Linked DNA regions of Homo sapiens: region 2 is linked to region 1. A link means that fine-mapping ties the variant in region 1 to the expression of a gene that starts in the linked region. Tissue or cell type: whole blood. Region 1 holds a variant in brackets; the other region holds the start of a gene. All regions are shown on one strand. Distances are between the middles of the regions.

Region 1 (5,209 bases):
GTTCCAGTGTCTAAATATACACAAATAAATGCACACAAATATGACAAAGTACCAGAAACCAATGATCTAGGTGAAGGATATGCAGGGATTTACTGAATAACCCCCACGCTTCCCATATTTTTCCAATGGTTTGAAATTTTTCAAAGTAAGTAGTTGGGGACAAAATTCTAGGGTAGCTAAGATATTTACATATAATCTATACAAGAGAGACTGTCATGGGTTACTCAGTCACAAATTCCACTAGTGACTTTTTTTTTTTTTTTTTTTTTTTTTTTGAGACAGAGTCTTGCTCTGTCACCCAGGCCGGAATGCAGTGGTATAATCTCAGCTCACTGCAACCTCTGCCTCCCAGGCTCAAGCGATTCTTGTGCCTCAGCCTCCCGAGTAGCTGGGATCACGGGCATGCGCCACCACGCTCAGCTAATTGTTGTATTTTTGGTAGATATGGGGTTTTTTCATGTTGATCAGGCTGGTCTCAAACTCCTGGCCTCAAGTGATCCACCTGCCTTGGCCTCCCAAAGTGCTGGGATTACAGGTGTGAGCCACCGCAGACAGCCACACTAGTCACTTTTATTATAATGAAAAATAAGCATTGATTTTTATAAGCAAGCTCCCCATTTACTGCTTGTTTCATTTCTTTTTTCCTGTTCTACTTAAAATTTAAAAAGGGCATAGCAAGATGAAAACACAACCTTGAGCTTCACTTTCTTTATGTCTGGGTAAATTTTTTTTTAATATGGTAGCCATTTTAACTTTTCTTTTCTTTTTTTTTTTTTTAAGATGGGGTCTCGCTATGTTGCCCAGGCTGGACTCAAACTTCTGGGCTGAATTAATCTTCTCACCTCAGCCTCTCCGGTAGCTGGAGTACAGGTATGTACCACCGTGCCTGGCTTCTTTCACCTTTCTAAATAGTGAATCTTTTTTGATTCATGACAGGCATGAAGTCTGTCTGAAAGCTCCAGCTTTGCTCACATAATGCACAAGTTAACATGAAAATAACATGTAAGTGCCCACTGTGGGCTCAGCACGGGAGGCTGCAGGCAAGGGTCTGGGCTCTGCTGTTGGGAGGTGAGCACAGAAACCAAATAGGACAGTTAGAGTGGCACTGAGTGTCTTTGGGGTCCAGAGAAAGAAGGAATTAGCGGGGGCTGAGGCAGACTCGCATCTTGCTTCAGGAGTTTGCTGGACGCAAAATGATGGACGGCGCTGTCAACCAAGTAAGCTGATTTCTACTACAAAGTCATTTTCACCCATCTTGGATGCAAACTGGTAAGGAGCTTTACAACACATCTATTTCCCACACTTAAACTTATGTTAAACTTTCCCATCTCCAACTCACACGTCACTGGTATTCAACCTTTATTAGAAAGTCACAACTAAAGCTGGTCAACACCCTTAATCATCACAGCTTGCTCCCCGCCAGAGCCCATTCAAACAGCCCCACATCACTCACCTTGGGCGCACAGTCCATGATGCCTGTTCCCTTCATGTCGGTGATGTGGAGCAGCTCCCCTGAGCTCTGCAGCTAGTATCTCCAGCTTCAGAGGCAGATTGTGCAATGTCACTGCATGCTTCTGGCTGGTTCTCAGAAACTGAATTCTATGGAGCTATCTGACAACACATGGGAAACGATCAAAAAGACTCTCCCAGCAGGCAAACTTTCTGGAAAGCACGATAAGAGTAAAATGAAAGCAGTGAAGCAGGGGAGGACCAGAAATACAAGCCACACTCACGTCTCAATGCCTGACGTCTCACTTTGTCTGTAAGTAGAGACTGTCACTCATTTGCTATGTGAAACCACAAAAGAAGAAGAAGAAGAAAAAAACACCACTCTTCTGCTTTATAGGGCGAAGTTCCTACTTCGAAGAGCTCAGTGTATGAACACACAGCATTCTTGTCCTTTGAACTCTGTGGAACAACTCCAACCGAACAGACCAAGCTCATTTCCCTGATGAGAGGCCACTAGGCCAAATTTCTGATAGCGGTCAGCATTTCTTCCTTCCTGCTCCCTAAAACTTGCCTTATGACAGCCAGGATAAAAGCAGTCAAACAGGCTGCCTTAAAGGACACAGTCTCCACTCTACCCACCCTGTCAGTTGTGCATTCACCCTGCTCGGAACCCCATGCTCATCTCCTGGTCTTTGCTCATGGTACCTAATGAATAACATCTTCTGGGTACTGGCTCTGCACTGAGGGCTATGCTGAGCCCCGCACCTGTATTCTCTCTCTTAAATCAAATAAACTTATCGTGTGTGTTGTACTTGAAACCCCTGCTAGCTCATGCAGTTTATCATCACTTGCCAACTCTTTTTACTTTTCCTAAATTCAGATCCAATCTCTAGAGAGGACCTACAGCATAGCAGACACTGAGCAAAATAAGTCTGCATTTTTTTTTTTTTTTGAGACGGAGTCTTTCTCTGTCACTCAGGTGGGAGCGCAGTGGCGCAATCTCGGCTCACTGCAACCTCCACCTCCCGGGTTCAAGTGATTCTCCTGCCTCAGCCTCCAGAGCAGCTGGGATTACAGGCACCCGCCACCACGCCTGGCTAATTTTTGTATTTTCAGTAGAGACAGGACTTCACCATGTTGGCCAGGCTGGTCTCAAACTCCTGACCTCAAGTGATCCAC[C/T]CACCTCAGCCTCTCAAAATGCTGGGATTACAGGCGTGAGCCACAACGCCTGGCCCCGGCCTGCATTTTTATTTAGACAAAATGGTGCCCATTCTTCCAAGCCAGGCTCAAGTTCTATCCCCAACCAGCTGTGGGGGATAGCTTACCGCTATCTTCTTGTCAGACAGCATTTTTTAATTTTTTATTTTTAAATTTTCTTTTCTTTTACCACACCTCTGAGGCAAGTTCAACAGATAGCACTTAGCGTCTTGTCCTCTGGTTGTCCCATGTGTCGTCCCCACAAGTCTGGGCACCAGGATGTATTTACCCATTGAAGTAGCTGACTGATTTCTGGCTGAGACAGTCCACATTTTTAAATGTTATCATTGTTAGAAATTAACTTCAGGGCCAAGTAATTGGCATGCTGCAGGCGATAGCAGATAACAGGGAGGGAACAATGACCCCACGCAATGAACAGTTTGGTTCAAGGAGGAGATCCATAGAGATATTAAGATATAAATTATATTAATAATAATATATTAATATTATATTAAGATATAATTCAGGTACCATAAAATTCACCTTTATTTATTTATTTTTTTTGAGACGGAGTCTTGCTCTGTCACCAGGCTGGAGTGCAGTGGTGTAATCTCGGCTCACTGCAACCTCCACCTCCAGGTTTCAAGAGATTCTCCTGCCTCAGCCTCCCAAGTAGCTGGGATTATAGGTGCGTGCCACCATGCCCGGCTAATTTTTTTGTATTTTAGTAGAGACAGGGTTTCACCATGTTGGCCAGGATGGTCTTGATCTCCTGACCTCGTCATTCACCTGCCTTAGCCTCCCAAAGTGCTGGGATTATAGGTGTGAGCCACCGCACCTGGCCAATGCACCTTTTTGAAGTATACAATTCAGTGGTTTTTAGTACATTCAGAGTTGTGCAACCACCATTTCAAAAAGTAATCCTCTTTCAATTCCTGGACATTTACCCCATTAGCAGTTACTTGTTCTTCCCCCAGCCCCTGGAAACCACTGTTTCTGCTGTATTGTTGACTTTTATGTCTGAAATTCTCTGTAATGAAAAGGAAGGATGGATAAACTTGCCCAAGGTCACAGAGTAAAGTAACAGACCCAGAAACTGAATTCAAGTCTCTTAGAAAAGACTCCACAGTAACTCAAGTTCAGATGGTTTCCATCAACTTGGCAGACTCCCGGCAGTGATTCTTCCCTATACTGAAGAGCCTGCCCTTAAGCTCATAATACAGATCAGAATGCTATAATTCACAAGTTGTTTTTTCTAGGGAAAACAACCTCAACTAGAAAAGTAAGACACAAAAGTAATAGGCTTTGGCCCTGAAATTATATCAACTAGCTCCTACATAGATACCTAGTTTGATATTTTGTGAATAAGGAACTTGACCTCTCGGTCTGTTATTTGAGCCCTCTATGGTTTTTCTGAATGAAAGGTGTGAGAAACTGCCTTAGACATTTTGCTGCAATCCATTAGTATTTTAAGGCAAATGAGCCTTTAATGTGGACAAACATTGCAAGAACTATTAGTCTAGGAAACTGGGTGCTTGCATAATATCCGGTTGTCTGAAGGCTGAAACAGCTGGAGTTCAAGGGAACTACGTCAGAAGGACTCTAGTGAGGTAATCTTAATGCTCTTGGCAAATGTGCTATCAAGAACAGTAGTTTGGACCGAATTTTCTTTTCTGAGACAAGTGAGTCTGACCAATTCACTTCTATAGTGCCTTATACATGCGTAGGGAGGAAAATTGCTTTTGCATGTTTTTCTGTATGCTTTTATGTTGTTTTCATGTGAATATCAAGCTCCCTGACTGGTAGTAGTGAAACACTGGGCACTCGATATTTGAATTATAAAGGACAGCTGAACACCAGACTTACAATGTTCAAAACATTAAAGGCTTGGCGGGAAGTTTCAGGCTGTAATCTCATGAAGATTACTCATAAAAATAGCTCTTTTGACCAAAGCAGAATTTCATGAATTGGCTGGGCAAGACAGCTCAGGTCTGTAATCCCAGAACTTTGGGAGGCTGAGGCAGGCAGATCATTTGAGGCCAGGCCTGGCTAACATGGCGAAGCCCCATCTCTACAAAAAATACAAAAATTGGCCGAGCGTGGTGGTGCATGCCTATAATCCCAGCTACTTGGGAGGCTGAGGCACAAGAATCATTTGAACCCGGGAGGTGGAGGCTGCAGTAGAGTGGAGATCGCACCGCTGCACTCCAGCCTGGGCGAGAGTGAGACTGTCTTAAAGAAAAAAGAAAAAAAAGAATTTCATGAATTGCCCACAAATTCACCAAATATTCTGCTGCAGGGATAATACTGGGAGGGCTGGGGAATCTGCAGCCACTCTAGTTATTAGTGATTAGTTTTATCACCCAAGTTTTGACCCCCAGGTTGGGAGGGAAAAGGAATTAGGGCAAGAATTGAAAACAAGGATGCAAAGGAAATGCTCTGGGGACAGAGTGGGGACAGGAAGCTGGAGGGAAAGGCTGAATGCCGGCAGGAGAGCAAGAAAAAGCCAGAGAGAAAATGATGCCCCAGGCAAGCGGTCGTTACTGGGGAGCAGACAGAGTGG
Region 2 (5,131 bases), 57 kb before region 1:
TGCAGGGCTGTCCTCATGGAGTTGGGGTAACTCTCCTGGCATGTGGATGTTGTCGGCAACCCAGAAAATCTCCAAACCCTCAACTTCAGGGATCTTTATGGAGACCCCACCACGTAGGCATGATGGATTATTAACTCCATGTCCAATTCCTCTTCTCCTCCCTGAAGGATGGGGGTGAGGTGGGGCTGAAAGTTCCAGGCTTCTAATCTTGGCTTGGTGTTTCTGGTGACCAGGCCCCATCCAGGAGCCCACCAATAATTGCCTTATTAGAACAAAAGATGATCCCGTCACCCAGGAAATTACAAGGAATTTAGGTGCTCTGCGTTAGGAACCAGGGCAGATTTCACAATATTGATCCGAAATGTAAGCTCCACCAGGGCTAGACTCTGCCTTGTTCACTGCTATATCCCTGGGGCCTACAACAATGTATATATGGTAACCACTTATTAAGCATTTGTTGTGTGAATAGTTATAATAAAAATCCATCCTGCCTAGGCATTCTGGCTTTTTTGAATCGCTCTTCCTTCTTTTCTACCCTCTTCCGACACCTGTTTCTTGTCAAGCCTTTCATTAAGCTACTCCTTTTCAGCCCTGGGCACAAGAAAACAAAACTGAGCTAAACACTTTTTTGGTGAAAGCCAAAAAACCACTCATGAATGCTAATTATCCAGCATTCGCCTGTTTACATGTACGTATGATCAGAGGGTACACTTCATCCTCTTGGGTATTCATTCATTCCCATATTCACACATACTTATTAGGTGTCTATTATGTGGCTGACACATGGTAGGGGTTACAGAGGTAAGACACACAAGGTTCCTGTCTACGTGGGAAAGAGACAATAAACAACACAGTGGTAGGCACTGTTAAGAAGAGAAGAGAGAATATTGGAAGTGAGGCACATTTCAGTTACAGTGGACAGATGACATTTGAGTAAAAAACTGAATGAAGTAAAGAAACTCATCATGTGACAATCTCAGTGAAGAGTATTTCAGATTGATGAACTCACACTCCAGGTTGAAGAACAAGAGGCCTGTTTAGCTAGAACAGTATGAAAGAGGTGGAGAGGGGCAGAAGATGAGGTCAGAAACATAGGCAAGGTCTGCTCAAGGGTCTGACGAGATTTTATTCTTAATGTGATGGGAAGCCACTGGAATGCTTCAAATACAATAGTGACTTAAGGGGTTTACCTTTTAAACAAGCTCTCCAGCTCCTGAATCAGAATACATGAAGTCTCCACGTGTGCTTTACAAATATTTTTGTAAAGAAGTCTCTACTAGGTGCTTTACAAATATTTTATCATTAAAAAGTAATTACTTGTGCTAACTTTGAAATCCCAAATAAGTGGATGGGAATCCTGGCTTCACTACCTACCAGCTGTGTGATCTTAGTCACCTTAATATCCCTGGACTCAATGTCCCCGTCAGTAGCAAAGAAATTATTATAATTTCCTCGATTACTTGTGAGATCAGGGATTATTCACTCATTTGTTTATTCGAAATATTTAGTGTGCCAGGAACCATGCTAGTTGCAGAGAAAAAAAGGGTACAGCCTCTGCTATCAGGAACTTACCGTCTAGCGGGGAAGACTTGATACAAATCAACCACGTACAGCCGTGTGCAGGCTAAGACAGTTTATAAAAGGATGTGGTAAGGGAACAGTTTGGGAAGGCTTCTCTGAGCAAATGAAGTTAGTGTATACAAAACTCAGTATACACTAGGTATTTGTATTATTGCTACTAGTCGCAGGTAGGGTTCAAATCCTGGCTCTGCCATTTACTAGCTTTGCAAATTTCTCCTTTTGAGCCTCAACTTCCATGTCTGAAAATGAGGACAACAGTATGTAGCTATAGGGCTATTGTGATAATTACATGAGATACCCCCTGTTAAGATTACTGTCCAGTGAATGGCAATAGTCAGCACCCATTGAATGTCCACTCTTAATACTGTTGTTAATTTTGAGTCCTCTGAATGGAATAAAAGACCGCAGCCAGGTCTGGAACTCCGCTGGCTCCCCCTTCTTACTTCCTCTCGTTTTCTGGGGTCGTCAAATTCCCACCACCCCCGGTCGCCAAGAGCCGGCCCACATCACTGACCTTCTCAACCTTCTTCGGCCCCTTCACCAGTTCATGCCTCTTGGGGATTGTTCCCCCGTCGCAACCCATCGCAGGACGGGAGTCAGAGCCAGCAGCAAACCCCCAAAGCTGTCACTTCCGGGATTTCCGGCGAAATCCGCAGCCACTTCCGGCGCACCGCCGTGACGCAGCACGCTGGTCGTGGCGTAGCGGGGCGGGGCGGGGCGGCACGCTAGGCGCGGCGTAGCGGGGCAGGGCGAGGCCGTTACCAAGTGCCGGTTGTCATGGAGAGCGTCGCTTGGAGGCTGGGCGTGGGCGGGTTTCCTCGTTCCCGTGAGACCCTGGGTTTCTGCTGCACAATCGGAATCACTCGCCCACGCTCCGGGAGGGCAGCGAGGGCGTGGGCGGCCCGTGCGCATCCACCGCTCTTTGACCCTATCCCACGCCAGCTTGTGTGGCTGCGGAGCGGGCACATCCCTGGACTGAGAGCGCCTTGAGGAAAAGGGCCGCCCTCCTGTTTCTGCGATTAAGGATGCCTATGAACGGAATCTGCTGTATCAATGGACATTTTTGTGTTTAAAAGGAGAACGCATCTTTCTTGAGCGCCAACTGTGACTCAAGCACTCACAACAAATCTTGTGAAGTGATGTTACAACAGATTCTAGGAAGTAAGACCCTCCCTTAAGGCCTGGAACTTTCTGGTGTTGCCATGCATATTGTAGATGGCATGTGTGTGAAATTTTGCATACAGTTTGTGCGTGTGTGTATTTCATTCACAGTTTCCTGAAGCCCAGGCTAAAAAAATTTTATTAACAATCAAGTATCATTAATAGACGATATAATAGTTCTTATAAAATATACACTGATGTTGCCATGCCCGTTCCAAGAGTCAGGCTGTATTTTATCTATAAGAACACAAATCCCTTGCTAAAAATTCATGATTGTCTGTCTGCTCTTAGGCGATTGTCTATCTCTCTGTTTGTTCCTTTAATTATTATAAATATTATGGGAAAGTGCCTATAATCCCAGCACTTTGGGAGGCCGAGACGGGAGGAGCACCTGAGCCCAGGAGTTCCAGGTCAGCCTGGACAACATGGTGAGACACCATCTTGAAAGAAAAAGAAAAATTAGCCAGGCGTTGTGGTAAGCTTTTGTAGTCCTAGCGGCTCCGGAGGCTGAGGGGGTAGGAAGGATTGCCTGAGCCCAGGAATTCAAGGTTGCAGTGAGCTTATGATTATGCCACTGCACTCCAGCCTAGGCAACAGAGCAAGACTCTGTCATTAATATGTATGTATGTATGTATGTATGTATTTGTACATATATATGATGGGAAAATTTCTCCATTGCCAAGAAGGCAGATCTTTATGATTGGATATTACCCTATTGACCTACGTGAAACATAAAAACGCTGAAAATATTTTTTACTTGGGAAGAGTTGCCCAGAAAATACGTGGATGTGGAAACTTCAAGGGCTATATGTAAGCTTGGGGTACTTGTTACTGTGATTAATGAGAATTTTAAAAAATAATCCCTTTAATTAGTTGGTCTCTGATTGATTTATGATTTATTTCTATGCTAACCACAATAACTGTAAGCTCTATGAGGGTAGGGACTTCATTTTGTTTTGTTTTGTTTTAGACAGAGTCTCGATCTGTTGCCCAGACTGGAGTGCAGTGATGTGATCTCGGCTCACTGCAACCTCAACCTCCCAGGATCAAAGCGATTCTCCTGCTTCAGCCTCCCCAGTCGCTGAGATTACAGGCGCCCGCCACCATGCTGGGCTAATTTTTGTATTTTTAGTAGAGACGGGGCTTCACCGTGATGGCCAGGCTGGTCTCAAACTCCTGATCTCAGGTGATCCACCTGCCTCGGCCTCCCAAAGTGCTGGGATTACAGCCGTGAGCCACCAAGCCCGGCCAGGACTTTTATTCCACATTGTATCATCAGTGCCTAGAAGAGTCTTTGGCACACTCAATATATGAGTACATTTCCTCAGTAAACCAAAAGAAAGTACAGATTCATTGAGAAAGGGGTGAAAAGCCTAGTTTTGGCAGATACTAAAACTGGTTAGTACTATTAGAATTCCATTTACTGGTGAGGAAACAGAAGCGTGGAAAGATCAAATGACTCCTTCAAGGTCACATAGGCAGTGAGAGACCCGGGAATGAGTGCTAGGATTAGTTCTTTCTCACAGCAAAGGAAAGAAAGTCAAATACAGAAGAGCAGAAACACCAGCATCTTTAGAAAGACTCAAACCAGTGTTCTTTTCTCATTTGGGGAAGAAAAAACAAAAATAGCGGCTCTTTATTAAGCCATGACCATGCGTGCACTGAGAGATTTGTAGGCATTTTTTCACTTTGGGCTCACAATAACCTTAAGAGTTAGAAGGTATAATCCCTCTTGTTTTACAAATGAAAACCCCAAGACTCAGATGTGCAAGTTGTCTTTGTTCAGAGTCTCATAGCTGCTGAGTAAAAGGAGTATAAGATGAGGGGCTGTCTCCGATGAGGCCCGTCTGACTTAACTGCTTCCCCAAATGCTGCTGATAAAACCCAGCAGTACCGGCTGTGCTGGTGTTCTAGCTCAGGCAGCTGGACTTTTTTCTCTTCCTCATTGGTTTCCTCTTTTAGAATATTGGTCTCTAGGCTACTCTGTGCCTCAGACTATACGCAGCTAGAACTTTTGTGAGGTTTATTATCATTGGTAGCAAATATGTGTTGAGAGCTGGCTGCCATGTCAGGTGCTGTGTTCAGCGCTTTATTGGACTTGAGCCGTTTTATTCTCCCGGCTCTACTGGGAAGCAGATGTCATCATTGTCTGCTTCTTCTTCCACTGCCTTGTTGAATGAACTAATAAAGGTTATTCCCTTACAAGCATCTTCGGAGACAACTTTGTCCTAGCCAAGCCATGGATTTTTGGGGAAGCAGAGGAATGAAATGATAAAAAGGAAAATCATTACCCTCTAGTAAAACCAGTATTTCTTAACCTTTTGGGAGTCATTGGACCTGTTTGAGAATTTGATGAAAACTTTGAACTAAATCTCCAGAAAAGTATTGA

What was found. PIP is the estimated chance that this variant, and not a neighbour inherited with it, causes the effect.
Region 2: it holds the start of RTF2, and the variant in region 1 is fine-mapped to the expression of RTF2 in whole blood (INTERVAL, PIP above 0.99).

The regions. Positions count from the first base shown.
Region 1 is chr20:56,408,739-56,413,947 of GRCh38, reverse strand. It overlaps CASS4 (Cas scaffold protein family member 4), which reads right to left and starts at 1,688. Exons shown (of 6, transcript NM_020356.4): 1 at 1,454-1,688. The coding sequence starts at 1,489. The variant C/T (reference allele first, on the strand shown) is at 2,629.
Region 2 is chr20:56,465,731-56,470,861 of GRCh38, reverse strand. RTF2 (replication termination factor 2) reads right to left here and starts at 2,235. Exons shown (of 9, transcript NM_016407.5): 1 at 2,096-2,235. The coding sequence starts at 2,164.